2 separate regions of the Homo sapiens genome follow, and region 2 is linked to region 1. Evidence: fine-mapped expression QTL. Tissue or cell type: aorta. Region 1 holds a variant in brackets; the other region holds the start of a gene. All regions are shown on one strand. Distances are from middle to middle. Region 1 has its middle 120 kb from the start of ARPP21. Region 2 holds the start of ARPP21 (cAMP regulated phosphoprotein 21).

Region 1 (2,920 bases):
GCCTGTATTTAGAGTTAAATGAAGATATTTTTAGAAGAATATGCTATATATGTTTTTATATGATAAACATTGAAATGTAGTAATATGAATATAAATTATATATGTGTGTGTCCTTTATATACCCATGTATACACATACACACATATACAGAGACACAAACATATACACACTTAAAATGGCTGGAAGTATACACATTGAACTGTTAACAGTAGCTAATTTTGAAGAATTGAACATATAGGATGATGCAGCTGGGGAGACACAGTTTTCCTTTTTGCTTAATACAGTGCTGTATTTTAACAATTTAAAGAGTATACATTAATGTGATGATGATTTAAAGCAGTTACCATTTTGAGAACATAAATAGAATTCTGAAGTTGGAATTCCTAAATGGACACCTCATTCTCAAAATAACTGCCACAGAAGAGCAGTAGTTAATGATTACACCAGGAGGGCAACTCTTAGGTTAATAGAAGTACACCATAGACAACTGGAATCTCATTTAAAATACAGAACTCTCAGGAAAAGAAAACACAGCTGACCCTGCTAGGCACAGAGAGCAGAGTGACTATAGCACAGAGGGAGTACATCACAGAGTTATCTCTATGGTCTCTTCAGGGGAAGAGTCCTATGAGCCAACCACACAGCAGGAGGCCATGGTGCAGACTCCATGACAAAGACCGATGAAACAGTCACGTGAAATTAGGTTTCTAAAGGCTTGAGGTGACATTTGATTATGGCTTTTGGAGATAAACTGTAGTAATCTGTGGAATTACATATACCCAGAATTTTGCCTGTATTAACTAATAGTATTTTCTGATTTTCTCTTAAAATTAATTAAAGTAGAAACAATATCAAAGAACATTCAATGAAAAAAATTCTAGCACTTCTAGAATAGATTCCCAGCAAGTTCACCAGATCCGGTCTTCTGGTAAAGAGCTATATAAAATAACTGGAACTTTTGGTGCCAAAGCTGTTTCTTACACAAGGAGAAAAATAGGTACAGACGGTGTCAGATTTTTTATCCTAATTCATTTTCCAGGCTTGTGTACAGTTTCTTACCCCCACTATATTTTCCAGTTCAGTGAATTCTTCAAAGAATTTTTGTATTGTGGAAATGAACATGTATGGTGTTTATTTGTGCTACAAATAAGTATTTTCTTTCAAGTAGGAAAAGAGTGGGAACCCATTTACTTGTTCAAGAGCAATTCAATTTCCTTGTTGACTGTCAAACAAGCCAGGGATGAAATTGATCAATTTCAGAAAAGTAATGAAAAGAATTGGCTAGGGATTCAAAAGGATCTATTTTAGGGGAAAATCAGTATGTAGATATACTTCAGGCTAATAAAATTATGGCCAAACTGAGTAACTACAATTTTTTGATATCAACATTGTTATCAGAAAAATATTTATTGGGTTTTATTACTGTGTAAAGAATAGATTTGAGTGAACATTCTTTGTTGTTCTTCACATTCCAAGATCCTTACGTAATGTAATGTTTCACTCTTCCA[A/G]TTATTTCAGCTGGCTGCTGCACCGCCAATGAGACTATTGTTGGGTAAAAGCAAACTGTGAATCTATGTGTATAGATGTTTGTCTTTTTTTATTTAACTAGACAATTTTAGAAGTTTTATAGATATTTCTGTTGTGAGGTAGGATAAACTACCGGAAAGAGGTAGGGAGGCAGTTACTGACAACGAGGTAGAGAAAACAGATTAAGGGTTTTGTTAGGTAGAGATTATGATGCCATATTTTAATGTATGACAAAACTAAAATAGCTGGTGGATATTTTTTATGCTGGATCATAGTAGGAAATACATGTTCCCAACTGGTAGTTTGAGGTCATGAAAGGGATTAAAATGTAGTTTGAGGAATACATTTTTTTCTTGCAAATGTTTATGTTGTTGAATTTTTAAAGCTGGAGATTGAGATTATGATAACAATGCATTTGGAAGATTTATCTAGTACTGAGAACAGGGCTGATTGTATAGTAATCAGTGAGAGACAAAGAAACCAGTTTAAAAAGGGATTGTCATAATGGTTGTGTGAGAAGAAAAGCAATTTAACTGAGGTGCTAGAAAGAATAAAAGTATCAAGAGACGGTTTGAAATAATTGTAAAAATGATTTGCTAGAACAAGAAAAAAGGAAAGATAATTTGACTCTTGGTATTAGAGGGTTTTTGATCCTGAACATCAGGGTTCCTGGAACTCAGAAAATCTGGTTTCTCATTCCAGTATGTGGCATTCACTAGCTGTGTGAGAAAGCATTATTTACATATCTTAGACTCTGCAAGTGTCGAAAAGAAGGTGGGGCACTGAACCAGTCTGTCCCATTTCCAGTACAAGAGACCTCAGTCCGGTGTCCCATCACTGAGCCAGACATCATAATGGATCATAAAGCTCTTTTCCATTGGGTACAAATGAAGCCTCATGATCCTTCTCAATTAAGGTCTCTAGACCAGGGGTCCCCAAACCCGGGGCCACAACCACTTCGTGGCCTGTTAAGAACCAGGCCACACAGCACGTGGTGAGTAGCGGGCCGCAGAGCATTATGGCCTGAGCTCCACCTCAGGCCATAATCAGCAGCCGCATTAGATTCTCATAGGAGCACAAATCCTAGCATGAACCACACATGTGAGAGATCTAGGTTGCACGCTCCCTAAGAGTCTAATGCCTGACAATCTGAGGTGGAATAGTTTCATCCTGAAACCATTCCCTCAGCCTTCCCCTACCCCAACATGCTCTGGACGTCTGATACCAACTGAAGGAATTTTGTATTCACAACAAAATCAGATTCTAATGTAGGAACTAGGTTTCAGTGTCTCGTCTTGTTGCTGTGTTATCTCCTGATTTTACTGTTTTCAATTCATGCAAATAGAGAAGCAGGAAAAGGAGAACTGAGAAAGAGAATGAGGCAGAGGAGGCA
Region 2 (2,920 bases), 120 kb before region 1:
ACCTCTTCAATAGGTCTCTTTCAAAAAGAGCATTGCAAACTTTCTACCATAAAGCCTATACAAATCACTGTAGACTTCTCTGATGAAAATCATTGCCAACTTCCAGCTTTCCATTTCTGTCTTTTCTGGGGGAAGGAGCGTCCATCCCTCCTTGACGAAACATAAAAAACACAATACATGTATAACAACATCAGCTTTCTACAAACACGAAGAAGAAATACAGACAAGAAAAAATTCAAAAGAAACAGACAGATATATGGCAGAAAGAAAGAAGGAATTCTAAAAATCCACAAAAGGCGTGCAATGTTCACGTCGGAAGACCTTGATTATTACCTTGATCGAACTGTGGATATCCCCCCTGCGTCTTGGTGCCTTGATTGGTTTGATTTAGTTTTGGATTTTATTAATATTATTGTTTCTCAATGATTGATTTGGCTGGATTTGTTTGTTTTGGCTTTTGGCTTGGCTTTTGTTGTTGTTGTTGTTGTTGGGTTTGTTTGTTTGTTTTGTTTTTGGTCGATTTATTTAACTGCTAGTAAAAGGAGCTTTCTGCAGTGTCGGCTGGGATCCCACACAGCTGTGGCAGCCAGGGCTGCGGCGGCGGCTCGGTCGCGGCTTGTGTCCCCGCTGCCCCTGCTGCTGCTGGTCTCTGCTCCGGACGCGCTCAGAAGGTGCCACCGCCGCCTTCTCTGGCCGGCTGGCCGCCGGGAGTGAACGCGCCCCCGCCTCCTGTCTGCTCTTCTGTCCGTCTGCACGTCTGTCAGTCCGACCGTCTGTGGGTCCGACTAGCAGCTCGGCGCGGGATTCTCGCTTTGCTGCGCTCTGCTCTCAAAGCTGCCACTCTCGCAGGCTGCCAGTCTGTGCGCTGGTCTGTCCGTCCGTCCGAATCCCTCCGTCCCACCAGCAATGCAGCGTCCCTCTTCCGGTCTTCTGTGCCCACAGTCCTCTCCCACTCTGTGCCCCTGGCCGCTTCGCTCGGTAAGAGGAGGGCGTGTGGAGGGAGGGAGCACGCGAGTGTTGCTGTCTATCTTTCTGTGTGCCTCTCCCTGCCTACTTAATGCTCTCGCTCTCTTTGCGTTCTGGTCTCCCTCTCTCAGGCTGTCTGACTGCTCCCACCTGTCCGTAGCTCTGCCAGTCCCACCCCTAGCCAGCCAGCCTCGGTCGATCCCTCGGTCCCGTTCCTCCAGCTTGGCCGCCTCCGTCGTCTGCCCCTCCGCCGGTCCGTGCCCTCCCACGCGGCTGGCACTGCCGCCGGGGGCGGCGCCCGGCTCCTCCCCGCAGCTCCGGATGCGTCCGGTCCCCGCCCGGGCTGAGGGCAACGCGCGTGTTGCACGTGGCTCCACAGCTGCTCTGGCCGGAGACCCCGGGCCCCAGACCCGCCACACCCGGGAGGTGGCGGCAGCCGGACGCCTGCCAGTGTCGCCGCCTCTGCGCCACTGGGAGCATCCAGAACTGGCCCATCCAGAGTGATGGCACCTGCTGGGTGCGCCGGGCGCCCGCGGTACCACTCATTCCCTGGGCCGTTCTCCGCCAGCCCTAAGGCTGGAGACAAAGCGCATGAGCCACGCGCAGCAGCGTGAGCATCATTAATCAGAAAGAAAACTGGCACGTTGCCCCCTGCCCCGCCACACCGCCTCCCTGCTCCCAGCGAGCAGGCATGTATTCTCTCTTGTCCCCCGTGCCCAGGCCCTCCAGCGTACCCGTCTCGGGGGCGCCCCTGGACTCCTGGGGACTCTTGACGAAGCCTTGTTCCACTCCCTCCACCGCTCACTCTCCAGGCCAACTCTGCAGAGACAATCCCACAATAATAACACCTCGCCCCACCCGAATGAATCCGTAGCCTCAGCGCTCTTGGAGATTCTTTGCTTTGAGCAAGACTGAAAGTCCGAACGTGCAGCACCAAGTGTACTCCCTGTGGGTGACTGCCCAGACCGCTGCCCACCTGATCGCTGATTTGGAATCACAGAGGTGCCACAGAAACCTGGGCAGGGTAGGACCTGGGGAAGGAACAGAGTTGACACCTGAAGAAATAAAAGCCTTGATTTTACCGCTTGTTCTAGAGATGCACTATTTTTATTGTCTGTAATTCATTGTTTTTTTTCATTGTCTCGGAGCACTCACTAACACACTACAAGGAAGGAAAAAAAAAAAAAAAGGAAAAGGCGTAGTGAAGGAGAGTGAATAAATTTCCGGAATTCCACCTACTCCTTCTGAGTGAATGTAGAGCCTACTTTTCCAACATTATAGGTCACCAGCCAAGATATACCACTCTAGCTTTCTGCTCCCAGCTGAGAGCAAGGCATTTGATTCTGGGCTTCTTTGCAAGGTTGTTATTAATGTGCAGCAAAATTATAGTTGTACACTCACACATGGAATTGCCAAAGCTCATTTTGACTATATCCAGCAATTCAGCTTCTGAAATGTAGACACTGAATAACTGTGTATCTGGCGAAATGAACGCCCCATCCCACAATAAACTGAAGAGGAGAAAATCAACTTTTACCAGTTGTAATTAGTAACCCCATGAATAGACAACAAACAAATAACTAGCATAAAACATGTTATGAAATTTTCCACATCCTTTTAGTTTCACTTATTGACACCCAACCATAATGACAGAGATTACAAACAGATTTATTAACATAAATGCCTTTGCATTATTATAGAAATGTGATTTCTACAGCTATGGCTGTGTTCATATACGCTAAGATATTGATTATAAATCTCAAATAAATGATACATGTACTTCTAGAAACTACTGTAAAAATGGAATGAGGTTGTACCGACCCTTGATGAGTAGGTAATTATTTTCCAACTATTCGAAATTGTCTCCCTTGGTGTTCAGCTCTCACTAGAATAAGAATGAATCTGCTGTATGAGGTTTCAGGCAAACCAAACCCAAATAATTCAAAACTGTTAC

What was found. PIP is the estimated chance that this variant, and not a neighbour inherited with it, causes the effect. A credible set is the group of variants that fine-mapping cannot tell apart.
Region 2: ARPP21 starts here. The variant in region 1 is the best candidate, but not a certain one, in a credible set for the expression of ARPP21 in aorta (GTEx, PIP 0.84).

What each region holds. Positions count from the first base shown.
Region 1 is chr3:35,522,634-35,525,553 of GRCh38, reverse strand. No RefSeq gene overlaps it. Among named protein-coding and RNA genes, the nearest start is that of ARPP21, 120 kb to the left of the region's middle. The variant A/G (reference allele first, on the strand shown) is at 1,509.
Region 2 is chr3:35,637,812-35,640,731 of GRCh38, reverse strand. ARPP21 (cAMP regulated phosphoprotein 21) reads right to left here and starts at 1,207. Exons shown (of 21, transcript NM_001385562.1): 1 at 334-1,207.